Homo sapiens: one gene and its partners. The protein of the gene in region 4 purifies or fractionates together with the protein of the main gene of each other region. This does not show direct contact. Each region holds a gene or a part of one and is shown on either strand. Other genes may lie near its edges. The genes, in order: PPM1H, WDR12, STEAP3, ACBD3, TBCD, ALG6 and CP.

Region 1 (4,812 bases), on a different chromosome or scaffold from region 4:
AAAAAGAGCCTGCCAAACATACCAAACACTATTTCTTGACTGAAATAAAAACGTTATTTAAAAGCCCATTTAGGCCGGGCGCGGTGGTTCACGCCTGTAATCGCAGCACTTTGGGAGGCCGAGGCGGGCGGATCACGTGAGGTCAGGAGTTCGAGACCAGCCTGAATAACATGGAGAAACCCTGTCTCTACTAAAAATACAAAAATTAGCCGGGCGTGGTGGCGCATGCCTGTAATCCCAGCTACTCGGGAGGCTGAGGCGGGAGAATCGCTTGAACCCGGGAGGCAGAGATGGCAGTGAGCCAAGATCGCGCCATTGCACTCCAGCCTGGGCAACAAGAGCGAAACTCCTTCTCAAAAAAAAAAAAAAAAAAAAAAAGCCCATTTGGACCCTTTACGAGACAGCAACTTGGAGGCATACCCTGTGGTATAATTGTGTAGATGGGGGTCCTTGTGACTGCCAAACGCCTGAGATCTGTCCCCACTCCAGTGAGTTTCCCAGGGCGAGGGCGCCTGTCAAGGCGAGAAGGAAAAGCAGGCAATGGTGAGAAAGTTATGAGAGGTAGGAAAGAAGATACTGAAACACTGAAGGTGGAAGCCGTTTGGACACAGTAAAAGGAAAGCCTCAGATAAGCATGAGGGAAAGGAAAGAACGAATTTCAGAGTGTTTGCATGCCTATGGTAGGCACAGGATGCAATGAGACACGCATGAGAGAGTGCTTAGAGGGCTCCCCCCATCCTCTCTGGGCCTCCATTTCCGCATCCCTAAAAAGTTAATTTTTTTTTCCTAGAATAAAACATGAGAGATATTCAACTTGAAGCCTAGGAAGGCCACTGTAAAATGTTACAAATTTTAAAGTTAGTGGCAAAAATAATACATGTGTGATAATTCAAGCAAAGACCTATTTAAAAAAAAAAAAAAAAAGTCAGCCCCTCTTCCCCAGCCCTCACCTACTCCCTAGGAGTAATGAGGGTTCAATGTTTGGGTGATATTTGGCTTTCAGACTTCTTTGGATGCCCTCATAAATACATATCATGCGTTTCTTTTTTCTTCTCAAAATAGACTCATACTAAGCATATTATTCTGTAGCATTTTCACAAAACACTATGTCATTAACAGTATTCATAAGTAAACACAGAATTACCTCATTCTTCTTAAATATATACTATTGGTAATGGCTAACATAGTTAATGCTTACTCTTTAGTGCTTATACTGTTTTATATCATCTGATTTTCATAAAAGCCTAATGAGGTAGGCACTATCATTTCCATATTATAGTTGAGAATACAGAAGCACTGAGTGATTAAGCAACTTGCCCAGGGTCAAGCCTGTGTGTGAACCCAGGCAGTCTGACTCCAGAGCTCGCAACACCAAACTCGTTCTCTACAGTAGATTAAATTATGATGTATTCATCTGTACCCAGGAATAGCCACTAAAGTCTTGGCCATCTCTCTCTTCTCACCTTTAACCCTGTCAGATAATATACTGTACCGCTTCCTTATATCTTGAACTGTTAGTTTATCTTCCTGCAAAAATGCATCCTGAATGATCAAAATGGCTGAAATAGGGAAGGAAAGAGAAAGACAAGTAGGGACTGTGGCTGTGATCAGAAGCTGCCACCAGTAATGCTGCCCTTTCCTACAGGATTTACTGGGAGAAGAAATTCTGTTCTCTTTGTACTAGAAGGTACCTGAGAGGGGTTGAATAGGTAGGAAGATTGCTCAAATTGTGGTGATAAGAACTGTACTAAGGAGCTAATGCCTGAATCAGAAGTGATCTGTTTACCTCTCTAGAAAGTGAGTCACGTTCCAAGCCTTCCTTGGGAGGAAAAATTGACATCTTTTGGTCAATGAGTTAATGTTGATGACTGACCCTTTGAGATGGTAGAAAAATTAAGGAGAAATGGTCTAATCTTTTGCCACTTACTGTTAATCCCTTTCAAGAAGAGAGACTCTATAGGCTATAGAACTAGAGAATTAGCCGTAAGCAATCCCTGCTAGACTTGAGGTTGCAGAAACTGAAGATTTTCGTTCATTTCAGTATTCATTGGCATTGTCCTAGATGGAATTTCCCAGCTCTTGAAAAGCTTCCTATTACAGCTGAAAAGTTTAGCCACTTGGCTAAGGGGTATTTGCAAGGTTGTAAAGCTCTGTAAAGCATTGTAGTTATAGATAACATCTACTAAGCTAAAATCTTTCTAAAAACATGCATTAGCAAGTTTTAAGTTTGGCTTTGAAATCAGTGGCTGAGCCTGTTTGGTTTGCTCATTTGATAAAGCCCTTGGGGAGCAACAGTCTGACCCAGAGACCAGGCGGCAGCTACTTCCTTTCTCTCAAATACCACCCAAGTGGAGGTTGGTTCATTTTTATAATGGGTTGGGAACCCATTTTGGCTTTTTTTCTTTTTTTACCTGTTTGCCCGATTTTTATCCTGTTGATGAAACAGTTGGTCTTAGAGATGCCAGCAGGCATGGAATTTGTGCCTGAAACTACAGACGTAGGGAATGCCAAAGAATGTGTTGTGGTTTTGAGCAACAATATTGTGTATGTTAATGCATCATATTCAGGTTTTTATCAGTGATACATTTGTTTACTTGTACAGAAAGAATACATTAAGTATAGCTAATTTTACTTCGGTTATAGCTATAACTATAAATTTTTTTTCCTATTTCTTATAAAAGTACCCCTGGACATAAGTAGAAACAAAAGCTACTTTGAGAGTGTCTGTTAAATGTATATCATATAAGTGTATGTCTCACAGAGTTGAAAATTATGAAATTTTTGATGGAATAACCTTATTTAAATCCAGCCAGCTGCCTACAGGTATTTGGATTTGTTTTGGACTCTGCAGGCTGTCTGTCTCCTTGGTCATTGGCACTAATTGCTTATTACCAATAAATGGCATTAGTTGGCTGGGTGGTGGTGAAGACACAAAAACCGCTATTTCTTTCTTGCCCCAAAGCTCGGAAATCCCCTGGCCTTTCTTTTTCCCTTCTAACTTTTCCTGGCATACCTGCCCCTCTTACTGACTGATACCTCTTTGCAGAACTCCTGCTTGGAAACTTCCTGTTTGACTTTTGCAACTGAAGAAACTTGAGGTTCTCTACTCTTATGTAAGGATAAAAAGGAGTGGGTGAGGGTATCTGCAGATGAGTTACAAGTCCAGAGTAGCCTGAGCTATTTCAGCTACCTTTCTGGTGACTTGCAAAAGGTATTAATTTCCTATTTTAAAGCAGACAGCTAAGCGTTCCTTCATATTTCAGATATAGCATTATAAAGAAATCATCCCCCTTAGGTGGAGCTCCTGGGGATGTCTCTTTTCTTAGGAAAATGCATCAGCTTCTTTCAAGGACTGGTGATGCTTCAGGCAAAGGGTTTAACCATGCAGGGGGGTGTTTACTATATGTTTCAGTCCCAGTTTAGGTAGACATCCGCATCTCTGCTATGACCCCACTATACAGTGCTTTCAATTAAGGTTACAGCAGTACTAGTTGAAAATGTAAAACTGCATACTGGAATTGTTGTCTAAAAATACATTAATGTTCAAGAGTTATTTTTAATTCTCAATGTTTGGTAGAAATAAACTCTGGTGCCTTTATAGTTCTGTGATTTGCCTAATTTAAAGGGAGGATTAGTTAGCTTGTCCCCTTGAATTTTTGCTATCATTTTTCAGGAAATAATCATTCATCTGCTTCCATTATTTCTCTCAATTGATGAAATCATTGCACTCCTACTATGTGTCCAGCATTGGTCCCATGCTGGATTCATAATATAATAAGACATAGTCATTATCCTCAAGAAAATTTTATAGCATAATCTTTCCCCTTTTGTACTTTCTTTGAAATTAAATTAAAATGAAATAGACTATTAAGGTTCAAAGGGACCAGCACCAGGAGTTTTGTTTTGATTTTAATGTCTTAATGCTTCTGGGTAATTTTAAATCTCAGTATTTGGAGCCTTTAAGTCACATTAGGGAAGCAAACTTGTTTTTTCCAACCAGCTTATGATTAGCTTTGTACCTGAAGGCCCAAGACCTTCCCTGCTGTTAGAGAAAAAAAATTATTCTGACACTTGTTACAATGCTGGGGAAGACTTTACTCAAGTCTGTTGCAATATAGGAAAACAACCCAGCTCAATACCACGTTGACAGCTGGTACTTGTAGGCAAAGAGTAGAGTGTGAGGGGTCAGTGGAATGGAAAGTTACTCAGCGGGGACATTAAACCAAACTCAACTGACCTAGCAGGATTCTTGCTGAAAGCAGACCAAAGACTTGTAACATCAAAGGTGGGGAATGAGGAACTTGAGCAGGTATCAAGTTTGGGGGATTCTTGCTAACCTGACTTAACAGGATTCTTGCTTAAGGAACAGGATTGGCGCCAACGTTGTGACTTAGTAGAGAAGAGAGGCCTGACTCAAGTTTGGTGGAGGAGAGAATCTTTGTCATCCTTGCAGATGGGGGAGAAGGGGGAGAGAGTAGGTGGGACTGCAGTTATTTAACTGTGATTTTCATTCTGACTTATCTGCATTACTTCTGTGACCCTCCATAATTGACTGTGTTTCCTACTGACCATGTAAGGAGAGCAGATGCCCTTAATTATGGTGCAAAAGATGCAGGATTGAACCTAATTATACAACATAATGTTATGGCAAAGAGTTGAGGAGCCTTTCCCAAGTTGTTTTTTTAGATAAGTGGTTTTCACTAGCTTTCCAGTTTGGTACTACAGTAGATACTTTGCAAATTATTAGCTTAAGAACGGTATAGCATTTGATTTGTTTGGCCCATCTCCCATATACCATATAGTGATAGGATT
Region 2 (4,769 bases), on a different chromosome or scaffold from region 4:
TAATGTAGAGCTAGCTGCTGATGCTTCTCCTGGACAGGAGTCAAGTCTCTCATATTTCATAAATGCCTGTGGAATGAATTCTTTCTTTAGCTGTTGGATACAATGTTTAAATGGCTTGCACTAGGAAGAGCGTGGTAGTTCAAGCCTATAATCCCAGCACTTTGGGAGACTGAGGCAAGCGGAGCACTTGTGGTCAGGAGTTTGAGAACAGCCTGGCCAACATGGTGAAACCCTGTTTCTACTAAAAATTCAAAAATTAGCCCCATGTGGTGGCGTGCACCTGTAATCCCAGCTACTTGGGAGGCTGAGGCACGACAATCACTTGAACCCAGGAGGCAGAAGTTGCAAGCCGGGATTGTGCCACTAAACTCCAGCCTGGGCGACAGAGCAAGACTCTACTTGCACTAGTCTCTTAACAAAAGGAGGCAGCTCAGTCATTACATTTTAGTGTTGCATAAAACCTCTTTAGAAAGTGAAATAATTTAACACCTTTAAAGTACTTTTAAATTTCATTTAGAAGTACATTTACTGAACTGTTATTTAACTTTCTATCCTTTCTATCAACATATAATACACTTATACTAAGGGGAAAAAAGGGGTTTTCCTCCATTGTATAGACTTTTACAAGCTAACTAGACAAGAACATTAGATGACTTGGAATGTAGGGCTCCACAAATGGGATCCAAACCTAGAGTCTTAGTTTCTTTAAAGACTAATGGTCTTCACTTTTGTTTTTGTGCAAACCTCTGGTTAATCTCCCAAATAAAACCTCAGTTGATATTAGAAAACACTAAAAATTATTCTACTGTTTTGTACTGTTTTACTAAGGATTAGAGGTCTATTGAATCTGACATCACACAAAAAGCTCTATTTCTTCAAGGCATTCCAGTTTCTTTGTAATCTGTTGGATTTTACCGAAGACGTCAGGAGAAGCATTATAGGTCAGTGACAGTGGGGCCATGGAGAGCTATCTTCCCAGATACCCAAATGAGTAATTAGATACTGCAAGCTAAACATTCTGTCTCTTCCCTACTACATTTCTGTTTATTCAAGCAAAGCTAGAAACAGTATTAGAATTAGACACAATTCTAGAATTAGAATTATTATGATGATTTTAAATGTGAAGTGTTATCGACATCGTTTTAAAAATTATTTCCTCCCCCTGAAACCACTGAACTTCATCTGGTATTAAGTCTCAGCCATGTTATTACACTTTCACCAACTATACATAGAATTGTTTGACATGTTTCTAAACTTTGTATCAGATAGTACCTAACAAGATACTTTCTCTGTAGTCTTTATTACTCAGATGTATGTCGCACAGCTCCATTAATTGGTTACATACCTTCACACTAGGTACTTAACCTGTCTGCATTGTGGTTTCCTTTAAATAACATGAATGACATAATTACATGAATAATAGGATAATTTCTAAAATTCATTTTTGCTTATATACAATTCCTATTAGAATATACAGAAATTGATCTTTATACATTTATATACTATTACAGTAATACGTTTAGTGGCACGCTAAAATTGAAATTAATTTTAAAGGCAAAAAAATGCAAAGCTGAACATATTATTGTAATTTAGTACCCACAAATGTCACTTAAATTTATGTATTACTTTTTTTTTTTTTTTTTTTGAGACGGAGTTTCGCTCTTGTTGCCCAGGATGGAGTGCAATGGCGCGATCTTGGCTCACCACAACCTCCACCTCCTGGGTTCAAGCAATTCTTCTGCCTCAGCCTTCCAAGTAGCTGGGATTACAGGCATGTGCCACTATGACTGGCTAATTTTGTATTTTTAGTAGAGACGGGGTTTCTCCATGTTGGTCAGGCTATTCTTGAACTCCCGACCTCAGATGATATGCCCACCTCAGCCTCCCAAAATGTTGGGATTACAGGCGTTAGCCACGGCGCCCAGCCACATATAACCTTTCTGTTAGGCAAGTGAAGACACTTCCACACTCATTCTTTCCATTTATAAAAACATCATTCTTGTGCACGACATAAGATTGACAAAATATATACCAGTTAAGAGCTTGTCCAAGATAAGTCCAAGTTCAAATTCACTGCCATTTATTTCCTGCCTGTGTGACTGTTCAAAAACTTTAACATATATTTTTCTCTCCTATAAAATGCAAATAATTTATTACCTATAGAGGATTATTATGGTAGGATATAGTTTCATTGTTACTTTTATGGACACTGTAAGAAAATAATTTACTTCCTCAAATCTGCAAATCATTGGAACTGCTATTAGAACAACCATTAGGTTTAATTCTGTAAAACTAACCAGCCAAAAACGTTTCTCTCCTAAGTTATAATAAAGATATATTTGGTTCAGGCTGGATGCAGTGGCTCATGCCTGTAATCTTAGCACTTTTGAGGCCAAGGTGAGATGATTGCTTGAGGTCAGGAGTTGGAGTCCAGCCTGGGCAACATAGCAAGACGCCATCTCCACAAAAATAAAAAAAATAGCTGGGTGTGGCAGCATGCAATTGTACTCCCAGGTACGTACTCAGGAAGCTGGGGCAGGAGGATCCCTTGAACCCAGGAGTTGAGCCTGGATGGCAGAGCTAGACTATGTCTCGTAAAAAGAGATATATTTGGTTCATATAACAAAATACTGTTATTGTGTTTGATACTTAATCTATGATAGTCAAAAATGTCAACAATGAAGTGACTAAAATGTTCTTGCTGTTTCTACACCTGGCAGTTTCTGGCTAGTAAAATCTGGATTTCACTTGCCTAATGAAATCTGATTCTAATTAGTGGCTTTTTAAATAAAAAAGATATTATTGGAATATCCCTTGCATATAGTCTTAAAATGTCATATTTTTTCCTTTAAGAATAGGAGCCATAGTAATATCTATTAAAAAATCTGTATTTTTGGCCAGGCACAGTGGCATGCCTATAATCCGAGCACTTAGGGAGGCTGAGGCATGAGGACTGCCTGAGGCCAAGAGTTCATAACCAGCCTGGGCAACACAGCAAGACTGTCTCCACAAAAAAATTTTAAAATCAGCCAGATGTGGTGACATGCGCCTGTGGTCCTAGTTAGGAGGATGAGGTGGGAGGATCCCTTGAGTCCGGGAGTTAGAGGCTGCAGTGAGCTATAATCGGGCCGCTGCACTCTAGCTTGGGCAACATAGTGAGACCCTGTCTCTAAAAAATGAACAAAAATAAAAACTAGTATCTTTCAAAAAATTTAATATTTTCCTTATATTTGTTATATATAGTAAACTGTTACCTTTTTTTCAAAACTACGATACATCAAAAGAATTTTAGACTGTGTGAACAGATTTCAATGTTATTATCAGAAATTCCCAGATGGTATATATATATATATATTTTTTTTTTTGCAGGGTTGCTTGTTCCATTATATGCATTTTATATCAATTTAAACTTTTGTTTGTTCTTTCTCCAATAATATACTAGGAAGCATTCTGATATATTATTATGCATTGTTGACAACAGTTCCAAAATGGTAATTCCAAATTCAAAGGAAAAGAAAATATTGATCATCTTCTCATAGAAAAGCTATGTTTTTCTACAAAGGCCCCACTATGCCTGGCCAAGTAATTTCTTAAAACTTTATTTGGGCTGGGTGCGGTGGCTCATGCCTGTAATCTCAGCACTTTGGGAGGTCCAGGTGGGCAGACAGCTTGAGCCCAGGAGTTCAAGACCAGCATGGGCTACATGGCGAAACCCTCTCTCTACAAAAAAAGTAATAATAAAAATAAATTAAAAAATAAAAAATAAAAAATTGACTGGGTGTGGTCCCAGCTACTTGGAAGGCTGAGGTGAGAGGCCAGCTTGAGCCCAGAAGGTGGAGGTTGCAGTAAGCCAAGATTACACCATTGTACTCCAGTATGGGTGACATAGTGAGACCCTGTCTTGACAAAAAAACAAAAAAACCAACCTTTGATAAGAGAGCAAGTATCAACATTTTAAAGAACTGCACTACTATGGCAAGACAGCATAACTAGTACCGGTCAGCAGGTTCTGAGCACTGCATTGTCAGGTTCCTAGCTTTTCCCCAACCACGGGAAAGCAGCACCACTCATTTATCCAAGTGATTCTTGGGAATATATAAGTCCATGTAAAGCAGGCATCTCTGGTGTTCTGGTAGAGGAACTGGGACCATTGAAAGGTCTCATGGCTTTTGAGGGAAAGGGTGTGGAGCAATATCAGAGGACTGAATAGTCTAGGCATGTATTGACCTCTCATATTCCTTCTGTTCAGGGAGTAAGATCTAACCACTTGAGTTAACCAAGGAAAGGAGTTTGGCAGGGATTGATCAGAGACAATACTTGTCCAAGAGACTTGGTCACTTACATTATATCTATCTCAAGGAAGAATGCCTGAACTATGAATGTATTCTGCTGTGGAACCAGGATTGGGAATAGGTGGGGACCAGTTCTGGATGCCATTTTATTCTTTGTCTATGCATCTGATATATAGGCTTCTTTATCTTTAACCATCTAGTTTATACAGACTACATTCGGTCAGCCTAGGTTGGGTGAGTTAAGAAAGACATTTTAAATAACTGCCCTTAAGGATCATTTGAAGACCATCCAAAACAGGACTAGGAATTCATCTTTGTCCTCTCAAAGTTAGAAGATTTCCAGAGACTACAAATACAATAAAATTTATACCAATCAGCACAAAATGAGAAAAAGAAGGATTCTGTGCATGAATTTTCTGGCCACCTTTATTCACTATTTGGCATTAAAATATACTTTAAGAAATGGTAACTGGAGCT
Region 3 (3,471 bases), on a different chromosome or scaffold from region 4:
CCACACTAAGAGATTAGAATTTAGAAAAGTTGGGGTGGCTCAGAAGTTGCAGGGGATTTGGAATTCTTGACAGACACTTCTGGAAGTGGCAAGGATTTGCTTATGTGCAACTGACAGTCAAGGAGTCTTCTCTTTGGGAGGTGACCACATTAAAATGATAGGAATTCACTGTGGGTGACAGCATAAAGCCAATCGTGGCTTCCTCACTCTTCGTGGTGAGCCAGAAGTTGTTAAAGACTGGGCCAAGAAGATTCCAAAAATGGACACAAAGCCAAGAAGAACCAGAGAGGGTGAGGAAGGATAGAGAAGGTTTTATTTGGTTATTTTACTTGGGCCCAAGAATGTTGAACGTGAGAACCTGTCTGTGAAATTGTAGTGTGCAGCCATTGGAAAATGTTTATTATTATCTTTAGCAAAAGCTTTACAAGCAATTCTCCCACACCATGTTCTTTCACTCACTGACGTTCACTGTCCTGGTGTCTGTCCTGGAGCAGGAAATGAAGGGACACACACACACACACACCAGGGAGGAGCAAGAACGGGGCCCAATGTGGAATCAGACCCACTTAGAAACACTTCTGAGGGGAGTGCAAATGAGAAGCGTCTGTCAGCCGAGGCTCTGGATTGATGCCAACAAGCTGGGCTAGAAGGGAATCCAGGAGGCTCAGTCCATGCAGACCACCCAGAGGTCTCAGTGTGCCGCCACACTTAAATTACACCCTCGCAATGTCTCCTTGGAGAAAATGCATATGTGTTCATTGCTTGATGGGTCATCGCTATTTCCATCCCTGTGTAATAGACGTGGGAGGTCTCTCCCAAAGCTCTCAGTGGCTCACCAGTGCTAGCAGAATTCAGTCAGAGCACCCCTGTGCCACGACTCCCTCGCTCTCGGTGCCCTCTGCTGTGTCACTTGCCTGCCCTGTCTAGGGGACTAGATGGAGGCTACTGCAACTACTCAGCGCTTCCCCCTCTGACTTTAGCTTTGGAAATTACTTATCTCCCACTGAAGTTGATTAAGTCGCCTGCCCAGGGTTCATATCAGTTGAACCAGCACCAACAGTAGAACCTGCATCTCTTCCTTCGTGGTCCACGAGAACTCGTACATGCCAAGAGGCTGGAGTCATAGAGCAGCACTTCCCAGCCATTTTCACATTGCATCTCTTACAGAAAGTCATGCTTTGGGTGGTGGATCAGCCACTCTCGGCTGGAAGTGACCCACAAAAGCCCACACATTGTTCAAGGGGTGTGAAGCTCCATTGTAAAATGGCCGGGACCATTTCCATTTAGAGTTGGGATGGTCTCTTCTCCCAACGGTCACTAATCTCCTCCAGATGGAAGAGTAGGCCCAGCGGGGTTTCCACCCGGGTTGTTTATAACCCAGTGTGGGGTGGGAGGTGAAGGTCTAGCATGCACAGAGGGCATCTGTGTGGTGTTCTGGGGCTTTCTATACGGTGCCAGGTCACCCAGACCACAGGCCCCGTGAGTCCCCTTCGCTACTGGTGCCAAATCCACGTGCCATCTGTAAATTATTTACTCTGCATTTATCTTCAAGCTAATTTAAAATCAATCCACTTTTTGTCTGATCTTAACTTAGGCCAAATGTTATCTGTGAAATTATGATTTTGGTATGCAAGCAGACACTTGTTACTCTAATATACATTAAAATACACACATAACTAGTAAAATTTATACACACACACACACACACACATATACATGTATATGTATATATATATTTAGAGACAGGGTCTTGCTCTGTTACCCAGGCTGGAGTGCAGTAGTGCAGTGGCACAATCTTGGCTCACTGCAACCTTGACCTCTTGGGCTCAAGTGATCCTCCCATCTCAGCCTCCCAAGTAGCTGGGACAACAAGCACATGCTGCCACAGCCTGGCTAATTTTTTTGTATTTTTTGTAGAAACAGGGTCTCACTATGTTGCCCAGGGTGGTCTTGAACCCCTGGGCTCAAGCAGTCCACCCACTTAGGCCTCCCAAAGTGTTGGGATTACAGGCGAGAGCCACCGCAGCAGGCCTTAAATGTTTTTTAAACTTCTTTGAACTTAATTCCATCTGAAATCATCCAGCAGCCTCCAGAGATAACAAATAACAAAGTTAAGGAAAAAGCATGGTCATATAGTTATTGTATGGAATCCGTGTGAATTGGTGGGTCCTTAGACACCTTCAGCATAGAAGCATTATTCCCATTTTCCTGTTGTGGAAGCTGAGGCACAGAGAGTTGAGAGTTATCATAAGATCACACTAAGAGAGTGACAGGACTGGGGTTCCAACCCATAGCGGTGAGTACTAAAGCCACCCTCCTTCCCCTCCGCCAGGCCAGCAGATGAGTCGTTGGCAGGATCACTGCATCTGTCATCCCCTCGCCCTCACTCCAGCCTTTTTTTCCCTCCACAGTCCTCACTGGGCTTTGTGGCCCTCGTGCTGAGCACACTGCACACGCTCACCTACGGCTGGACCCGCGCCTTCGAGGAGAGCCGCTACAAGTTCTACCTGCCTCCCACCTTCACGCTCACGCTGCTGGTGCCCTGCGTCGTCATCCTGGCCAAAGCCCTGTTTCTCCTGCCCTGCATCAGCCGCAGACTCGCCAGGATCCGGAGAGGCTGGGAGAGGGAGAGCACCATCAAGTTCACGCTGCCCACAGACCACGCCCTGGCCGAGAAGACGAGCCACGTATGAGGTGCCTGCCCTGGGCTCTGGACCCCGGGCACACGAGGGACGGTGCCCTGAGCCCGTTAGGTTTTCTTTTCTTGGTGGTGCAAAGTGGTATAACTGTGTGCAAATAGGAGGTTTGAGGTCCAAATTCCTGGGACTCAAATGTATGCAGTACTATTCAGAATGATATACACACATATGTGTATATGTATTTACATATATTCCACATATATAACAGGATTTGCAATTATACATAGCTAGCTAAAAAGTTGGGTCTCTGAGATTTCAACTTGTAGATTTAAAAACAAGTGCCGTACGTTAAGAGAAGAGCAGATCATGCTATTGTGACATTTGCAGAGATATACACACACTTTTTGTACAGAAGAGGCTTGTGCTGTGGTGGGTTCGATTTATCCCTGCCCACCCCACCCCCACAACTTCCCTTTTGCTACTTCCCCAAGGCTCTTGCAGAGCTAGGGCTCTGAAGGGGAGGGAAGGCAACGGCTCTGCCCAGAGCCATCCCTGGAGCATGTGAGCAGCGGCTGGTCTCTTCCCTCCACCTGGGGCAGCAGCAGGAGGCCTGGGGAGGAGGAAAATCAGGCAGTCGGCCTGGAGTCTGTGCCTGGTCCTTTGCCCGGTGGTGGGAGGATGGAGGGATTGGGCTGAAGCTGCTCCACCTCATCCTTGCTGAGTGGGGGAGACATTTTCCCTGAAAGTCAGAAGTCACCATAGAGCCTGCAAATGGATCCTCCTGTGAGAGTGACGTCACCTCCTTTCCAGAGCCATTAGTGAGCCTGGCTTG
Region 4 (4,812 bases):
GTGAACCTTCTTGCTCTGTACCAGCTGTGACACATTAAAAGTAGGTCATGGCCGGGTGCAGTGGCTCACGCCTGTGGTGGCTCACATCTGTAATCTCAGCACTTGGGGAGAACGAGGCGGGCAGATCACTTGAGTCCAAGAGTTCAGGACCAGCCTGGGCAACGTGGCAAAACCCCATCTCTACAAAAAAAAAATACAAAAATTAGCCGGATGTGGTTACAGGTCCCTGTAATTCCAGCTACTCAGGAGGCTAAGGTGGGAGGATCATTTGAGCCTGGGAGGCGGAGGTTGCAGTGAGCCAAGAATGTGCCACTGCACTCCAGTCTGGGTGACAGAGTGAGACCCTGTCTCAAAAAAAAAAAAAAAATAGGTCATGTTATTACAATATTTTGAGACTTGGCTGTGGCTCAGGTAGTTGTTAATCACTTATAGGAGTTAGAGGGGAGAAAGGTGAGGTAGCCCAGACAATTCTCGTGGTAGGTTTATGAAATAGTGTCTTATCTGATACTCCTTAGAAATCTTCCCTTTCATCCTGTCTGCAGGCTCCCTGAACACCATACCACTCTCAGACCCGGAAGATGTCCATTCCTAGCACAATAGGATCTGTTCTTTTTGGAAGGGTCTTGTGGGGTGGGTGAAAGCTGGGCAAGGGCTGCCCTGAGAGGTTAACCGTTCTTTTTTAAATTAAAAGCTTTACAAAAAATTTTAATTTCAGAAATAATACACAAATATATGCAATATAAAATTTTCATTTATGGCAGTATATGAAACACAAACTGAAAAAAATCTTTTTTCCCACATTTCTTTTAATTCCACTCTCCTCTGCATAGATAATAACTGATAAATTTAGGGTATGTCCTTCCAGATCTTTTCCTTTGTATTCACCTTTTTTTTTTTCATTAAGCAAGTGTATTACATGTCTTTACATATTAGGCAATGTATTTCTATCCTTTGGCTCTGCGATATTTCAGGGTGGATTTTTTACTTCTGTACACGTTTGTCGAGTGCTTGTTCTTTCCAGCACTGTGCTAAGCCCTGAGGATGTCGTGGTGTGAGATAGGCAGTCTCTTCCCCTATGGAGCATCTAGTTTAATGGGTAATGCAGATCTATTGCTGAATGTATCACACAAATTTAATTATAATGACAGCAGGTATTATGAAGGAAAAGCTTTTAGTGCTGTGAGCATATATTAGAGGGGATCCTTCAGGGTATAGGAATATCATAATGACTTAAGTAGTTTCTTATGATGGACACATTTCTGTTGCTGTGCAACAATAATTATTCTTGATGTGATTTGTATATTGTGCGATTGATTCCCTATAAGTTTCTGCTAGTAAAGTGTATGTATTTTAAATTTTGATGTATATATCCACATTGTTCTCTAAAAAGGTCATGTCAGTTTTCCCTGGGAGCTAAAGTTTTATTTTTAAACAGGATTCAACGTATAGGGTTCATTCTCTATCTTTGCCTTGTAGGAAGGAGGAAGAGGAGCGAAGGCGGCGTGAAGAGGAAGAAAGAGAACGTCTGCAAAAGGAGGAAGAGAAACGTAGGAGAGAAGAAGAGGAAAGGCTTCGACGGGAGGAAGAGGAAAGGAGACGGATAGAAGAAGAAAGGCTTCGGTTGGAGCAGCAAAAGTAAGTTTATTATGTGGCTTATGTTTTAAAATGAGAAATGGAAAAAAAATAGAATAAAAATAAGAAATGAGCGGGCCAGGTGTGGTGGTTCACGCCTGTAATCCCAGCACTTTGGGAGGCGGAGGCGGGCAGATCACCTGAGGTTGGGAGATCACCTGAGGTTGGGAGATGGAGACTATCCTGGCTAACACAGTGAAACCCTGTTTCTATTAAAAATACAAAAAATTAGCTGGGCGCAGTGGCATATGCCTGTAATCCCACCTACTCAGGAGGCTGAGGCAGGAGAATCTCTTGAACCCAGGAGGTGGAGGTTGCAGTGAGCCGAGATCGCGCCATTGCACTCCAGCCTGGGTAATGAGTGAAACTCCGTCTCAAAAAAAAAAAGGAATGTATTAGAAGGTTTGGGGGTTCACTTGCAGAACCCAGAGATTGGAAGCAGGAGCTGAGGTTGCTTGGTTGCGCTCTCTGTTTCTTGTCTCTGCTTCTCTCAGCTTATGTCTCTGCTTCATCCTTGCTCTCTGCAAATTGTCAACTGTCTGCTTTGGCATATGCAAGGCTGTCCGAGGATTTATTTGGTCTATGTTTCCATGCATCTGACAGAGACTGGCTGGAATCTGTGAGACCCAGTTGCAGTTTCCCAGGACAGAGAATCTTGTTGGTCCAGTCTATGTCAGATATCCATTTATAGTCCTTAGTACAAGATTTGGAGGCTTCAACTATTGCTTACTCAGTAAGGGCTTTGAGACTCAGAGACTGACAGGTTCTTCAAGAGGGAGCTGTGGGTACAAGGAGGCAGTGATTAACACCCATAAAACACTGGGAAGTAAGTCTGAGTTTGTAGGGGTGGCATGGCTTGTAGGTTAAACCAGAGAACATGAGAGTCCATTGATTTCTTCTCATTATTTCTGGGTAGTTCCTCAGAAAAAGGTTTAGTGCTAGCCTCAAACTAATCCAGGCCCTCATTCAACTTTGGAGAAAGACTATGAATGCAGCTCTTTTTTGGGGGAGGTTGTCCTAGGTGGATCGAATGTTGTGCTGTATGTAGGAGTTTGTGAGGCTTTGCTTTGTTATCTATTAATAGATGGCTTTGAGGTCTCTGTTAAGTTGGTCACATAAGTAAGTTAAGAAGCATGTGGTTGCTGGCTGTGGTGGCTCATGCCTGTAATCCCAGCACTTTGGGAGGCCGAGGCGGGCGGATCACTTGATTGAGGTCAGGGGTTTGAAACGAGCCTGGCCAACATGGTGAAACCGTCTTTACTAAAAATATAAAGATTAGCCAGGCGTGGTAGCAGGTGCCTGTAATCCCAGCTACTTGGGAGGCTGAGGCAGGAGAATCGCTTGAACCTAGGAAGTGGAGGTTGCAGTGAGCTGAGATCACGCCACTGCACTCCAGCATGGGTGACAGAGTGAAACTCCGTCTCAAAAAAAAAAAAAAGAAGAAGCATGTGGTTTATCTATAAAAGAATATGAGTATCTCTAAACTAAGCATGCCAAGATATTTTCAGTATTTCCTCTATTAAGACAGGCTTTAAATTAAATGCTGTGGACCCTTAATTTTTCACTGGCTTTATTTATACTTACCAGGGCCACCTGTAACATCTTCCAGCTATTCTTCTGCCTCTTACTGTTTTTTATGTATTTAGGTACAGAAGCCATAGCCAACAGTTAAATACCTCATCTATGTCAGAGATGACAATCCATCATCTTAAAGCATCGTGGTAAATTAGTGTAGCTCTAGAGCCAAACTGCCTGGATTTGCATCAGGCTGTAGCATCTGCTAGCAGTATAGTCTTGGGCAAGTTACTGAACCCTCTGTCAGAGGGTTGTTGTGAGGACTAAATGGGTTAGTATGTGTGAGTACTTTCAACACTGCATGGCACATAGTAAGGGCACAATAAATGTTAATAATTATGATGGTGGTCATGATGATGATGATCATATGCTTATCTTCCATCCCGAATTTTCCTGGAAAATCCTAAGTAAAAAATTAGAGGCCAGGCTTATTTTCTTAAATCTTTCTTCTGGACCCAGAACACATACTAATTGGTGTACATTACTAGCTTAGTTGTTTTTAAGAGTTACAGACTGTAAAAGTAAGTAATAAGGACATTTTATTTTGTCATGAACAATCTCCTGTAGCCAGACTAGTATATATATTTTTAATGTTTTTAGGCAGCAGATAATGGCAGCTTTAAACTCCCAGACTGCCGTGCAGTTCCAGCAGTATGCAGCCCAACAGTATCCAGGGAACTACGAACAGCAGCAAATTCTCATCCGCCAGTTGCAGGAGCAACACTATCAGCAGTACATGCAGCAGTTGTATCAAGTCCAGCTTGCACAGCAACAGGTACGATAGACAACCCTAGAATTCAGCCTTAGAGAGAGTTTTTAGTTTCATTGGAACCCAAGTTCTTTTTTAACAGTCGCAAATGAATTTTGCATTAGTTAGCCTCTAAGGTGTAAAGTAACTTTTGGGTGATCTTTTAGGCAGACTTGAGAATTGCACAGGCAATTGTGAGAGAAAATATGTGTTATCGAAGCAACCGATGATGTTATATTGTCATAAGGGTATTTGGGAGTTGTATGGGTTGAGTGTCTTTACTGTGAGTCTGGCATAGACCCTAATAGTGGTCCTGGAACATGAGGACCTGAGTAACTAGCCATAGTTCAGAGATGTCCTTCAGGCAGTGCATTGTCAGAGGCTTGGACAGCCTCCAGTGGGAGGACTCCCCTGCCCTAAGACCATGGGCTGGTTCTGCAGAGCTAGATTGGGTCCATTTGACTTTGTGTTAGGCACCATAGTTAGGCAGTGCTCATAACAGCACATTGCTATTCCTCCTCCAACTGCCTGCCCCCAAGTATTTTGCTTCCACATAGGAGAGGTTGGTTTAGGTGAAAGAACATGGGACTGGGAGTCTCATAACACTTGGATTCTCTTTGGGCTTTGACATTACCTTGTTTGATCTCAGACAAGTTATTACTGCTCTGATTGTTCTGCTCTTTCTTTCAGTCCGTAACAATAGGATATAAAATCAAAGCACCTGTCCTGTTAACCTCACAGGACTATCAGAGGAGTCAAATGAGAAAAGAGTTACCCTGTGAACGATTTTTGTACTTGTAGAAGACACTAATTTTACATTCATTTTTTACATCTTGTGCAGGCATAAAATACCTCCT
Region 5 (4,812 bases), on a different chromosome or scaffold from region 4:
CTGACGATCCTCTGGAAGAGAGGAAACCTAGGAAGTGAAGAATCATAAGTCCTGCCTCTGAGCAAAAACATCCCCCTTAGCGTTCATCTGCTGGCCTTTCAGAGACTTACGACTTTAGGGAGGAACTGTTGGGACTCACCTCGCAATGGCCTTCAAGCCGTCTCTCCTGGACTCAGCAAAACTTACGTCCTCGGGGGAAGTGTGGGTAACTGCTCTTAAACCTGTGAGAACCTGGAAAGCAATAAAGAATCACAGAAGAACCATAAGCTATAACAAAGTGCACTCTTTAGGGAGGTGGCAATGTTGGCCCGGAGCCACAGACCCCACACCATGAGATAGGCAGCTCCTGGCACCACCTTCCTCACGGCCATCCATGGCCCCTGGTACAACCCAGGAAGGACACCCGGGGAGAGGTCACCTCCAGCCTCTCCACGGCCCCCAGTACAACCCAGGAAGGACACCCGGGGAGGAGTCACCTCCAGCCTCTCCACGGCCCCCGGTACAACCCAGGAAGGACACCCGGGGAGAGGTCACCTCCAGCCTCTCCACGGCCCCCAGTACAACCCAGGAAGGACACCCGGGGAGAGGTCACCTCCAGCCTCTCCACGGCCCCCAGTACAACCCAGGAAGGACACCCGGGGAGAGGTCACCTCCAGCCTCTCCACGGCCCCCAGTACAACCCAGGAAGGACACCCGGGGAGAGGTCACCTCCAGCCTCTCCACGGCCAGCCCCCACCCCAGGGTGTCACTGGGGGTCTGGCCACACCCTACCTGAGGTCCCCCCCTTTTGTCCTACGCTGAGACCTGGGGTATTGACAAAGGAAGCTGCTGGGTCCCGACAACCTCATCTGTCATATCTCCAAGTGATCCTGTTTCACATTTATCTGTGTTTCAACTGGATAAACCCCCACATGCGAGTTTTAGATGGCATGGCGGCTGCGAGGCCCACCCGCCACACAGGCAGGAGTCCGTCTGGAGCTGCAGATCCTGAAGTGCCAAGGCTGGATCCCATGGGGAGGGAAGGGCGTGGGGAACCCAGTGGCCAGGGCCTATTCCAGCTTCAGACGCCAGGTGGCCGGAGGGGAGACAAGCAGGAGTTCCCGGCAGGTTGGTCAGTGGGACCAGCACCACAGGAAAGCGTGAGAGAGCAGGTCACTGAGGCCAGCGTGGGGCTGACCTCTGGGAGGACGTGGAACCACCTCTGCCCCGACCTGGATGCAGGATGCACGGCCGCAACCAAAACAGGACCCGGCTCCACAACGCACAAAGGCAACTGTGTTCTCCTCACTCTCGGCAGCTGCTTCTACAAACAACACCTTCTCCTCCCTCCCAGAATTCAGCTTTTTCAAGTCTGTCCTCTGACAGCAAAGGGTTCGCCAGGGCCCTAAGGGGCCACAGACCTTGGGTGCCCTCTGCCCCCTTCCTCCTGGCCACAGGTGCCGGTTTCCAGGAACCCCCTCCCAGCTACAAGCACTGATGGGTTTATTAACGGCTGGGCCTACCTCATGCCCCAACACACGAGGCTCCCACACCCTCGCCCTAGGCCCCGTCCACTGCGCGTGGCCAGCCTCACCTGCTGGAGCCGGCCTTTCAGAAGGAAGCCTGGAAGGGCGCCCAAGGCCAACGAGAAGCCACAGCGAGTCATCTCCTCGGGGTTCCGAAGCTCAGCCAGGTACTGCGTGATCAGCTCCTCTGAAAGGAAGCAACGAGTGTGAAGAGAGGCCCTCTGCTGCCCATCGTGTACAGCCACACCCGACGTGTGCCCCAAACAGGAGCAAAGCCACAGTGAACAAAGGAGGAGCCGCCTGAGGTTCCCAAAGCAGACACGTTTCCAAAGTGGCCTACCTCAAAATAGGAATCAGAAAGAGAATTTTTTTTTTGAGAGAGTCTCATTCTGTCACCCAGGCTGGAGTGCCGTGGTGCAAGCTTAGCTCGCTGCAGCCTCAACCCCACACTCAGCCTCCCAAGTAGCTGGGATTACAGGTGTGTGCCACCATGCCAAGCTAATGCATGATTTTTATATACTTATAATAATTTTAAGTGGTGATTCACACACTTTTGACGTGATTAATAATGCATGTTCTATCATATGACATAAAGGAACACTGTGGGCCAACATATGTGCATGTGACACTTTAAAAATAAAAGTACGATTCATGAAGCAGATCCCTCGAACATGATGTGCGAGAAGCAAGCCTGAACTTCAGCACGGGGGTGCAGGATGTACAGTGAGGCGGCACAGCAGCTACGCACGGGACACGGCGTAAAGCCAGCCTAATGCTACTTTCATAAAGAAGGAAAAAACAGCAAAATGTATTAACGAGTGAAACACACAGCAGAAAAATGTCACGGTGCATACAAAAATTCTAAAAACACTGACCGAGTGCAGTGGCTCACACCTGTAATCCCAGAACTTTGGGAGGCTGAGGCAGGTGGATCACCTGAGGTCAGGAGTTCGATTCCAGCCTGGCCAATGCAGTAAAACCCCGTCTCTACTAAAAATACAAAAATTAGCCGGGTATGGTGGCAGGCACCTGTAGTCCCACCTACTCAGGAGGCTGAGGCACAAGAATTGCTTGAACTCAGGAGGCAGAGGTTGCAGTGAGCCGAATCACGCCACACCACTCCAGCCTGGGTGATGGAGCAAGAGGGTGCCGTCAACAGAGACGCGTCCCTGCTGAGCCACCTGTTCAGAGCTGATGCAACATCCTGGGCAGCTGCAGGACCTGCCCACAGCTCCTCGGCTGGGAACCTGAGACCCGAACAGTCCCACTCCAGCCATGATCGTGGTGGCTCTGCTCCACTGCACAACCGAGGCCTCCTCCGTGCCCAGACACTCCCCAGCAGCTTCCTGCTGGAAGCCCCTGGAGTCTTCAAGAAAAGGGCTCCCCACTCACCCTGAATTGCGGGATCTGCCTCCCCCGGCTCCTTCATGTAATATTCACTGCATAGAGCAGCCAGGGCCGAGACTGCTGCATCCTAAAACAAAGGCAGCACGGTGAGCGCACAGCAGCTCTGCTCGGAGAAGCCCCCGGCCAGGGACAGAGCAGGTCACTCTGAAGTCGGAGAAGCACCTGACCAGGGACACCGTGGTCACCCTGAGGTCAGAGCAGCCCCTGCCTGACCAGGGACCCAGCGGGTCGCCCTGAGGTTGGAGAAGCACCCGGCCAAGGACACAGCAGGTCACCCTTGAGGTCAGAGAAGGACCTGACCAGGGACACAGCGGGTCACCCTGAGATCTCGGCACAGCAATGACTTTCGAACCAAACCAAAAGAACCCCTAAGTCATGCTACTCCTTTCCAGCACGCCTGCTCACCATCATCTGTCAGATACACGCATCACTTTACTACCACTACAACTAAGAAACTGAATGGATAACCTGATTATTCCTTCCACAATGTCTGTCTTCTAATATGGAACAATAATAAAATGGAGCATATTTTTCTTTCCCAGAAATAGTTATGAAGAAAAAGGCATACACTATGCACCCAGAGTAACGGGGCAGGGCCTTCAGGCCAAGCCACGTCAGCCTCATTTAGAGAGACAGGGCTCCGGGGGCGCACTGGGAACAGGAGTTGGGGCCGGACAGCAGGAGACCCCCGGGAACCCATCCCAAGGCCACCAGGAACCGTGGTGGGAGGGACGGCAATTGCTGCACAGAGCAGGAGCGGGCAGAGAGTCACCAGTCCCGCCGCGTGCGGGGCTCAGTGCCACTGTCTCCTCGAACCCCCACCTCTGCCACCTACGGAGGAGCCTCTCGTGACCACACAGCCAGCAAGTGGCAAACACCAAACCCACGTGTTCTTTCCACCGCTCCCCCGAAGCCCAGGAGCCGAGGCCAACAGAGCAGCCTTGGAGAGGCACTGGGGGCGGGGCAGGTGGGGGCCATGAGCAGAGGAGGTGCGTCGTCTACAGGGTGCTGCATTCCACGAGTCACCACCTGTGCCAATCCCAGGGGCAAAGTGCACCAGCATCATGGCCAGTGTGAATTAATCATGGACTTTTGAAATAAAATTTTGAGGCACTGATCATGATGCATTCAAATTCAATTAGTAGAACGGTACTTGGATCCTACAGAATGTTCAAGTTCCTTAAGAAAAAAAAAATAAGAAAATTGAAGATGCTAAGGAAAAAGAAATGCTAAGCATGGAGGAAGTCAGAGAATTACAAGACACCTAAATGTACTTCCATTCTTCATCCTCAATATCAAAACCTAGTCAACGTTGGTAACCATGGTTTTTTTTGTTTTTGTTTTTGTTTTTGTTTTTGAGGCAGGGTCTTGCTCTTGTCACCCAGGCTGGAGTGCAATGGCGTGATCTCGGTTCACTGCAACCTTCGCCTCCCAAGTTCAAGCAATTCTCCTGCCTCAGCCTCTTGAGTAGCTGGGATTACAGGCACGCGCCACCTCGCCCCGCTAATTTTTGTATTTTTAGTAGAGATGGGGTTTCACCATGTTGGCCAGGCTGGCCTCGAACTCCTGACCTCAAGTGATCCACCCGCCACTGCGCCGGGCCCATGGTTTCTTATCTATGCAATGAGATCAGCGTTACAGCTCTGTGAGTCCAAAGTCCACCTGTAACCCCCAGGACGGGAGGGGAGGGCAGGTGGCCGGGGACACACACACACACTGGCACCCACACAACATGACCAGGTCAATGTGTGCGAGCAGAGGTCCTGGGGTGCTGTTTTCTCATCTGCACAGGAGCATCATAAAGGGAGTTTCCAAACCTCAGATCCTACAGGACACGGAACTCAACAGAGCACAGTTACTATTGATGCAGAAAAAGTATTTCAAAGGTAACTATAATTAA
Region 6 (4,026 bases), about 160 Mb from region 4:
CTAAGCTTTTGCCTTTTAGAACAGCTGGGTCTGCTGAGAATCATTTCCCAGTTCTTTTCATTGTAGATCAGATGACTCTCACTTTATCACCCTTGGAGGCCACATGAAGGACAAAGCAGAAAGATCCACACACACAACTAATGTTTATATGAGGGGAGGGGGAGTTGCAGGGGATATACTTGCCCTGATCTTCCAATGAACATAACAGAAGAGAGACCAATTGAGACTTGAAACCATTGCGTTACTTTAACCATTATTTAGTTATATCCTATCCATCTCTTTCTCTCTGTTGAACAGAGAGGTTCCTTTGGCTGCCCTGACTTTTGTAAATGTTTCACTCAATTTGTTGTGGTTTATCATTTGGACAGAATGCTACATTGGGGATTTTTCGCCCCCACTAAGTCCTCAAGGGAAAATGACTTCTGTATGCCTCATATATGATACATGAACATACACCCTATTCTCTTCATTTTAAGAAGCAAACCTAAGTTTTTTGGCAGCTGAGAAAACTGCATTTCTCAGAAATACCTCCTCCATCTAAAACGTACTTGAACATAACTTTGAAGGGCTTATTTTTTGACAGGTATATTAATGAAGAAAGTGAGGAATCTATCTTTAATATTTTTGCATAACCTATATGTATTTATATGAAAACATCCCTATAGCCCTGAGTTTAGCTAAGAGAAATGCTTTGGACCTTGCCTACTTCTGTGATAATTCATCACTGGATATTTTTGATATTTTGCTTTTTTTTGAGATGGTGTCTCACTGGTCTCAAGCGATCATCCTGTGTCAGCCTCTCAAATACAGACCGCTGTGCCTGGCCTCTGTTTCTGGTATTTTGTTTTGGTATTTTGGAACCTAATCCCTCTAAGTTCAATATAAACTCTTAAACCGGTTTTTAATAGATACGAGGGATACTTATAAGATAACTGCTACAAGTCTCTATAAAAACTATAGTGCAACTCAGTATGATTAGATTAAATCATCTGAAAAATGATTTAAGAATTTACCTATATGGTACCTTACAGAATTTACCTAGATGATACCTTGAATCAGGTGCATTTCATTTTACTAATATATGTACATAATACTTTTATTTCCAAATAATAAAGTTATGCTACTCCAATTATTTATAACTTCCTCATCATTTATCTAAGTCAACATTCTATGTTAAACACAAGTGTACTATTACAAAAAATATTTTTAAAAATAAAGCTACACCAGCCAGCCAAGATGCTGACATTTGGGCACAGTGATTACAGATGGTGACCATGGACAGCAATGTTCTTGCTGATTCGGCAGTGATTCAAGGCTGCTATTCTGCGTTGACCTGCCCTTTGAGTCTTTATGCACATTTGCTTTGAGAAAGAAACCTTTCTAGATTTTTGCTTTGTCTAAACCCACTTCCTTTACCAGACTTAGAAACACATACCTTCTTATATCAGCCTGTGACTGTCCGTGTCTAGAACCAGTTTTTTTTTGTATGTGGTTTGATTTGCACTATATTAAAATATACCACCACTTAATATAGTTTAATGGCTATCTTATGAAAGAAGAAATATATTCCTTAAAAAATGTTGATGGGAAAATGATTATCTTTATTACAGAGGCTAAAGAAAACATATCTTTATATGAGAAACTGCAACATGGATATCATGTATTATTTTTACCAGTTGAATACTATAATAAATATTGGCTTCTGCTAATACAGGGTGATACAGTATTAATAGGATGAAGTTAACATGAATCAATGCTCTGGCAGTGGTAACCCTGAACCATGTCAATAATAATATATATATAATATAATGTTTAATTAAACAGAATGGTTCTGGAAGTTTAGAACCAGTGATTATGTGTAATTTAGAAGACTTCACTCAAACCACTTAAAGTTAAGTTAAAGCTTACATTTAAATTCAGGAAAATTCATTTTTAATTGTATTAAAATATGCATTCTTGGAAATAAATAAGATTATGGTTTATTTGCCTTGTTAAAACAATCAAATTTGCATGTGTAATAAGGCATATTCAAACTTCAAGCAGTTTAAATTGCCTTCTCAGTAATTAAAAAGATTATCACAAATTTAATTCCCTAAGATATGACTTCTAAACAGTGAAATACACACTACTTGCATTCTAAAATGTAAGTTTGAATACCAAAATTAGTGATTTCCATTAAAAAGAAGGGGCTCAATTCTCCCATGAAGCTCACTATATGGTCTGATGAAGGAAGTAGGTTTAGACAAAGCAAATATCAAGAAATATTTCTCAGTTTTTTAAAGACATTTAAAAAGTGCATTTCCTGAGTAAACAATGGGATTAAGGACATGTTTCTCTTTTTTCCCCACTTGAATAGCTGTGAATAATAAAACCACATGTTTTGGCCAAGCAGTACTTAGACAAGCCTCCATTGGTCTTTGGTCTCCATATACATTTATTTTGTGTAGACAACAATGACTTTTCACCATTTCCTTTCCTGTGGTTCCATGGTTCTCAAAATGGTAATTTCATTTATACATAGCAAAAAGTTCACAAAACCTTTCAGCACTGTTCACATTTTCACATTTGTTTAGGAAACAATTTGTTTAGGAATACAGCTAGCTGATTTTCTTCTGATTTCTTCCACTTTTGGAATCCCACATAATAATAATGTTAAAGTATACCAAGAAGAACAGGAAGTTCAAGCAAGATACAAAACACACCAATACAGAAAACAAGTCCGGTAGTTTCTGAGGAGGATCCAGTGTGACAGTCATCAACGTCAGAAGCACCATAGTGATGACTGAGATAAGAAACTGCAAGGAAAAAAAGGATTACTGAGTAGTATAAAAGGTGAAATTTAAATGTGCTGGAAACATTGACTTGTAGCTATTAAATGAGCAGAATTAAAGGTGAGGGTTGAGGGTCTAATTTATTCTGGTGTATCTCAACTTTGACTTCCTATTAGAATCATATGAGGAGTTTTTAAAATCTCAATGCCCACATCACACCCCAGACCAATTAAATCAGGCCTCAGTACTTTTTAAAGCTCTCCAAGTGATTCCCATGTGTAGCCAAAACCTGAGGACCCCTGTCTTCTTATACTTCCTACCACCAAGGCACTGAACAAAGGTATCTGGGACAAATATTAATGCTAGTCAGGGTTAAATTTATAACATCCCCTGGGGTCCAACAGGATATAAAATTCTAAGCTAATGGGTACAAATGTATAGGTAGCTAGAAGAAATAAAACCTAGTGTTTGGCAGGTCAGTAGGCTGAATATAGTTAACATTAATGTACATTTTAAAATAGCTAGAAAATAATAAGTTGAATGTTCCTAGCATAAAGACATATTTTTAAGGTAATAAATAGCCCAGTTACCCCGATTTGATCTTCATGCATTACATGAATGAATAAATGAATCAAATTATCACATATACCCCCAAAATATATACATCTATTCTGTATCAATTTTTAAAATTCTAAGCTAACCTTGAGAACCCATCTGTGAAAAAGTTTTCCATGGCAAATGGAAAATTACATTTCATATTCGCTAAATGCTTTCAATGAGTAAAGCACACGAAGGCACATGAAAGAAAATGAGGTCCTCTGGCCTCAAAGAGTTTTCCATCTACTGAGGGGAATGTTAAATAAAATCACAAAGTCACACTGGCTTAAATACCAAGCTGAGTAGTAAAAATAATTAGCACATTTATTGTAGTTGTGTGGTCATCAGTTAGTGTGGTCTTCTCTAGGCCAATGTGCTATACAATAGAACTTCCTGCAGTAATGAAAATGTTTTGTCTGCACTCCAGTATAGTAGCTGCTAACCACATGTGGCTATTGGGCATTTGAAATGTACTTACTGTGACTGAGGAACAGAATTTTTATTTAAATTTAATAAGTTTAAATTTATATATATGTCTAGTGGCTACCGTACTGGACAGACTGTGACTCTAGACTGTGAGCTCCTTTAAGACAAAGACCAGCAAGATCTTACTCATTTTATCCCTAGCACAGTACACAGGTATACAAAAGCAGTATAA
Region 7 (4,812 bases), on a different chromosome or scaffold from region 4:
TAATAAATATATGTCTTAACAACAGCAAAATTGTTGCATCAAAGACTACTAAGTTTAAAAGCAGAGAGTCATTCAGTCCATATGACTGAGAGGAGGTCAATAAGAGTGCAATTTCAGTTAGGTACACAACTGCAGCTGCAAAGTCTACAGTACAAAGGTACAATTCCACTCTGGTCCCACCGGAACCCTGGACCAATCAATCTCACAGAGACTTGTCTAAGCCCCAGGGTAAATTTTCTTAAGAGTCTGAACACACTTTTATTTCTGAGAGATTGATTTGATAATATTTGGAGACTTTACTCCATGCTTTACCATGTCCTATTGGTACACATCTTACATAGGCCAAAGTTAAAAGTTAGCCCTCAAATTCTTAAGGCTTCATTTAAATAAAATGTTTCTTTATATTTTCTGAATGTAAATACACTTTGGCATACATCATGTCCTATTTTGATAAACTATAGCAGGCTTTGTCAAAATGATTTTATTGCATTGAAATGCTCCTGTATTAATCATTTCCTAAAATAGGAAGAGCATTGCCATAAACAAATACCTAAGACCAAGACCAAGACCTATATTGCCTAGGCTTTGTAACTAATTTTTCTAGGCAAAGTTTTTTGGGGGGGTTAAAATTGCTTTTAAAATTATTGATCTGAAGGTATAACATATCTAGGCGTTTTAACATCTGAAATTCCTTTTATACACATTGCAATATGCAAACTGCTTTTTGCATCTTGCCTTTTATTGTGAAAAAAACTGTCTTAACCAAACTGGAAAATATTTTACACTGTGTGACACTTTGGGAGAAGTCTATTTGTTTATGCTTTGTCTCCAAATAAACATTAAAAGGTCATTAGGGGCTCTCTATTTAATTTCGACAGCACAGCTTGAGGACAAAGGGCCAGTTACTGGAAGCTTGCAGGAAGTTTGCCAGTTAGATATTCAGCCACAAGAATCTATTATAGCTGTTCTTTCAACCAAATAATTCACATTTAATTGTAGTTCTTCCTGTTGACAACTGTAGTATGTTCCTTTCTACTCATTACTGTAGACATATCTCCCTTCAAGTAATCAATCACATTCTCTCTTTTTAGCCCCTTATTTAAAAAAAGAAAAGCCCGCTCCTATAATTTCTGGTAGTCTTAGACCCAGAAATGAGTTTTTAATAGTAGCATAACTATTTTTTAGTATTGCTTTGGTAAGATATTAATAATGCTATTCCCTCCCATAAATTTAGAATTCACTCAAGTGATCTTGGTTTATGCTTAGACGTGGTTCCCAAAACTTGGGTATTATAGGTGAAAAGTTTCTGGATTTTTGACTTCATTAATTGAGACATATATTTTTTATTGCTGCATAACAAATTATCACAAAGTAGGTTAAAACAACACCCATTTATAATCTCACTATTCTATGGGTCAGAGTCTGGCATGGTGTGGCTGGGTTCACTGCCTCAGGCATCACCAAGCTGAAATCAAGGGGCTGCTGAGCTGAGTACTTATCTGAGGCTCTGTGGAGAAATCTGCCTAGCTCATTTGGGTTATTGCCAGAATTCAGTTCAGTGGGGTCATAGAATTAAAATCCTTGTTTGCTTGCTGGCTATGGGCCGAGAGCCTCTCCCAGTTTCTTAAGGTCACCCGTATGCCCTCCTAGGTGGCCCCTTTCATCTTCAAGTCAGCTTCAGTGTGTGGACTCTTCAGATAATCTCACTGACTAAAACATAAATCATGAGAGTGATGTCTCATCCTGTTCACAGGTTCTGGAGATTTAGGATAGGATTTCTTCTGGGAGCCACTTTGGAAATGCTGCCTACCATAAACAAGAATCATAAGGAAAACAGTCAAAAATTAACTGCTGCAAGAATATGGCAGAGACTCAACCTAGGTATATATAACACAAATTCAAGTGATTTGCCGGTTCTAACCAGCCTTCCTCCACTGGCGCAGCATGAATGCAGTACCTAGTGAATTTTCTTTTGTCTGTGTTCTCAGGAGAAATAGGAACTTGATAATAAATGGAATTTGGTCAGTGTGAAATGTTAGTCACTTAATTAGCTCTTCCATACAAGCTGTCTTGTGTGAAGTGTTTGGAAGTGTACTGCACTAGCTATTGCTTGCTTTTTTTTTTTTTTTTTTGAGATGGAATCTTGCTCTGTCGCCCAGGCTATAATGTAACGGCGTGATCTCGGCTCACTGCAACCTCCACCTCCTGGGTTCAAGCAACTCTCCTGCCTTGGCCTCCTGAGTAGCTGGGACTACAGGCGCACGCCACCACACCTAGCTAATTTTTGTATTTTTAGTAGAGACGGGATTTCACCATGTTGGCCAGGCTGGTCTCAAACTCCTGACCTTGTGATCCACCTGCCTTGGCCTCCCAAAGTGCTGGGATTACAGGTGTGAGCCACCACGCCCAGCCCTATTGCTTGCTATTTTTTATTTGGCAACCTTGGAGAATGAGTCATTTAAAGTAAATTTTCCAGAAAATTTTAGCTAGTAATTGTACCTATTTAAGAATCATTTAAAAATTTAAAAATCATTTTTGAAGGGATGCTATATAACTTGGGAGGCCACTAGGCTGAGACAACATCAGCGCCTTGGGTTCCTACGTAAGCAAACCAAAACCCAATTCAATGTAGTAAACAGTAAAATGAAACTTCGAATCTGTAACTAGAGACTTTACCAATCAGAAGCCGCCAACTAACATCTAACTAGGGAGTCTCCACTTTAACCAGTCTAATATCTATTTCTTAGTCTGAGAATACGTTATAAAAGTTTCCTCCCTGCCCAGAGGAGCATTGACAGAACTGCTTGTGGTCTTAGGGCACCCAATTGCTGTGGCTGAATGCTTGAATAAACTTGTTAAACTTTCAATATGCCCAAGTTTATCTTTTAATAGGGGTAAAATGAATGTCATTAGTGCAAGCTTTTTCTTTAAAAATATTTTATTTGCTTCCCTGTTTTCCTAAACAGCGGATATAATGGAAAAAAAGTAACTTTTTTGATAACAATAGTGAAATGAACACTTATTGAATACTTATTATATCCTGATCACTCAAGATCATAATTATAGTAATTATGATTACCGTAAGGTGGAATGTTCTTTGTTGTCTAGTTTTTTGGTCAGGATTTGAGCTGTTATTTCTTCTTGGTCATTAGGCCTGCTTATAGTGACATCTTCACTGTACCATTTGTTTTGGAAACCTCTAATGGAATGAAAAACCCGGTAATAATGTTTGTAAGAACTGTATGTTAAGAAAGTTGCCAAGCCTGAGTGAGAGCCTATGAAGTCAAGTATAAAAGAGTTTTGTGATGGCCGTTCGTATACTTAAAAAAATTTTCACTTATTTCCAGCTTCCTAGAGGTCATCAGAAAAAAAAGTAATCTGAAGATAAGAGAATTACTATAATTTTTGCTATTATATAGTCAATTAATTCAGTAAATAATTAACTAATGCCTACTATGGACCCAGAACACACTATTGTGTTTACTAATTGTTTTTATATGTATGTCATTTATTTTAATTTGAATATATATAACTTAGGATCAGGAATTATCTCTTATAAAGTCTTTAACTACTTACTGATGTGTTGAAGTGACAGATAAGGCACTGACCCAAGTAAATAGCAGTACTGAGTATAAGGAAATTATTTTCCACTTCACTCTTTTAGAAATAAATATTATTGGCATTAATACCAGAGAAGTAAACTTTATTTTTTTAGTCCCCCCCAAAACCTATACATTTTTCTCTTTTAATATCTGCCAGTGTTTTCAGTTGCACTAACCCTGCATATAATCCCCTCAGGTGACTTTTCTATCTTATTCTGTTACCTGATTTGTTCTATAGCATGAATCTCTCCACATGAGGAGCAAGGAAAAGTTTTTACAATACAGTCTATGATTTTTCCTATCTTCCTATGTATCTTTTATTTACTCATTTAAACTTATTCAGAAATATTTATTTAGTGTCTCCTATATTCTAGGTACTAGTGACCAAGCACTAGTACTTGCATATGCATATACTAGTACTCTCAATGCATATTTTCCTGTTCATCATCCCAGACCTTCAAGATCAACATTCAGCTTAAACTCGATTCTTTACCTAAAATTCATATTACACTCTTTCACATCTTATTCTTCAGCCCATTTATTTCCACTCCTTTTTAGTCATCATACGATAAGAAGTGCCAACCATGTCTTGTGATACTCCATCATCCTTCACTGACTGGGCTAAACATGCTGCAAATCTGGGACAAAGAAGGGACCAAAAGGTTGCTATCTGCACACATCTATGCAAAAAGTTTAGCATAGTATTGGCAAAATTGCTGAAGCTGTATTCAAAATTCACTGGTAAGATATATGGGGGAAAAAAATCACAGAGAAAGCAGTCCCACCTAGAGTTTGCAAAACTGTAGCATATTGTTGAAGCCAGAGGAGATGTTAAAGTCACAGGACAATAACAAAAAGAGAGGTGGACTTTGCAACTAGAAGATGCTCCATTTTTCCTTTTAAGGAGCCTTAAGTATCTCTATTAAGTATACTTTTTAAGTAACTGATATGGTTTGGCTGTGTCCCCACCCAAATCTCACCTTGAATTGTAATAATCCCCACATGTCAAGGGAGGGGGCCAGGTGGAGGTAACTGAATCATGGATGTGGTTTCCCCCATATTGTTCTCATGGTAGTGAATAAGTCTCATGAGATCTGATGGTTTTATAAATGAGAGTTCCCCTGCACAAGCTCTTTCTTGGCTGCTGCCATGTAAGACGTGCCTTTGCTCCTCCTTTGCCTTCTGCCATGATTGTGAGGCCTTCCCAGCC

The links.
Region 1: the proteins of ACBD3 (region 4) and PPM1H purify together in Homo sapiens (pull-down; one large-scale study listed by IntAct). This does not show direct contact.
Region 2: the proteins of ACBD3 (region 4) and WDR12 fractionate together in Homo sapiens (co-fractionation; one large-scale study listed by BioGRID). This does not show direct contact.
Region 3: the proteins of ACBD3 (region 4) and STEAP3 purify together in Homo sapiens (pull-down; one large-scale study listed by IntAct). This does not show direct contact.
Region 5: the proteins of ACBD3 (region 4) and TBCD fractionate together in Homo sapiens (co-fractionation; one large-scale study listed by BioGRID). This does not show direct contact.
Region 6: the proteins of ACBD3 (region 4) and ALG6 purify together in Homo sapiens (pull-down; one large-scale study listed by IntAct). This does not show direct contact.
Region 7: the proteins of ACBD3 (region 4) and CP fractionate together in Homo sapiens (co-fractionation; one large-scale study listed by BioGRID). This does not show direct contact.

Annotation. Positions count from the first base shown.
Region 1 is NC_000012.12:62,928,195-62,933,006, reverse strand, and holds part of PPM1H (protein phosphatase 1H), read left to right. Parts: intron 1-4,812. UniProt on the Homo sapiens protein: Dephosphorylates CDKN1B at 'Thr-187', thus removing a signal for proteasomal degradation.
Region 2 is NC_000002.12:202,873,761-202,878,529, forward strand, and holds the end of WDR12 (ribosome biogenesis protein WDR12), read right to left. Parts: 3' UTR 501-4,769; downstream 1-500.
Region 3 is NC_000002.12:119,260,646-119,264,116, forward strand, and holds part of STEAP3 (metalloreductase STEAP3), read left to right. Parts: intron 1-2,411; coding exon 2,412-2,693; 3' UTR 2,694-3,471.
Region 4 is NC_000001.11:226,158,354-226,163,165, reverse strand, and holds part of ACBD3 (Golgi resident protein GCP60), read left to right. Parts: intron 1-1,476; coding exon 1,477-1,635; intron 1,636-3,807; coding exon 3,808-3,982; intron 3,983-4,812. UniProt on the Homo sapiens protein: Involved in the maintenance of Golgi structure by interacting with giantin, affecting protein transport between the endoplasmic reticulum and Golgi. Involved in hormone-induced steroid biosynthesis in testicular Leydig cells.
Region 5 is NC_000017.11:82,921,819-82,926,630, reverse strand, and holds part of TBCD (tubulin-specific chaperone D), read right to left. Parts: intron 2,980-4,812; coding exon 2,898-2,979; intron 1,693-2,897; coding exon 1,574-1,692; intron 232-1,573; coding exon 140-231; intron 1-139.
Region 6 is NC_000001.11:63,435,592-63,439,617, reverse strand, and holds the end of ALG6 (dolichyl pyrophosphate Man9GlcNAc2 alpha-1,3-glucosyltransferase), read right to left. Parts: intron 2,796-4,026; coding exon 2,598-2,795; 3' UTR 1,065-2,597; downstream 1-1,064.
Region 7 is NC_000003.12:149,214,787-149,219,598, forward strand, and holds part of CP (ceruloplasmin precursor), read right to left. Parts: intron 1-4,812. UniProt on the Homo sapiens protein: Multifunctional blue, copper-binding (6-7 atoms per molecule) glycoprotein. It has ferroxidase activity oxidizing Fe(2+) to Fe(3+) without releasing radical oxygen species. It is involved in iron transport across the cell membrane.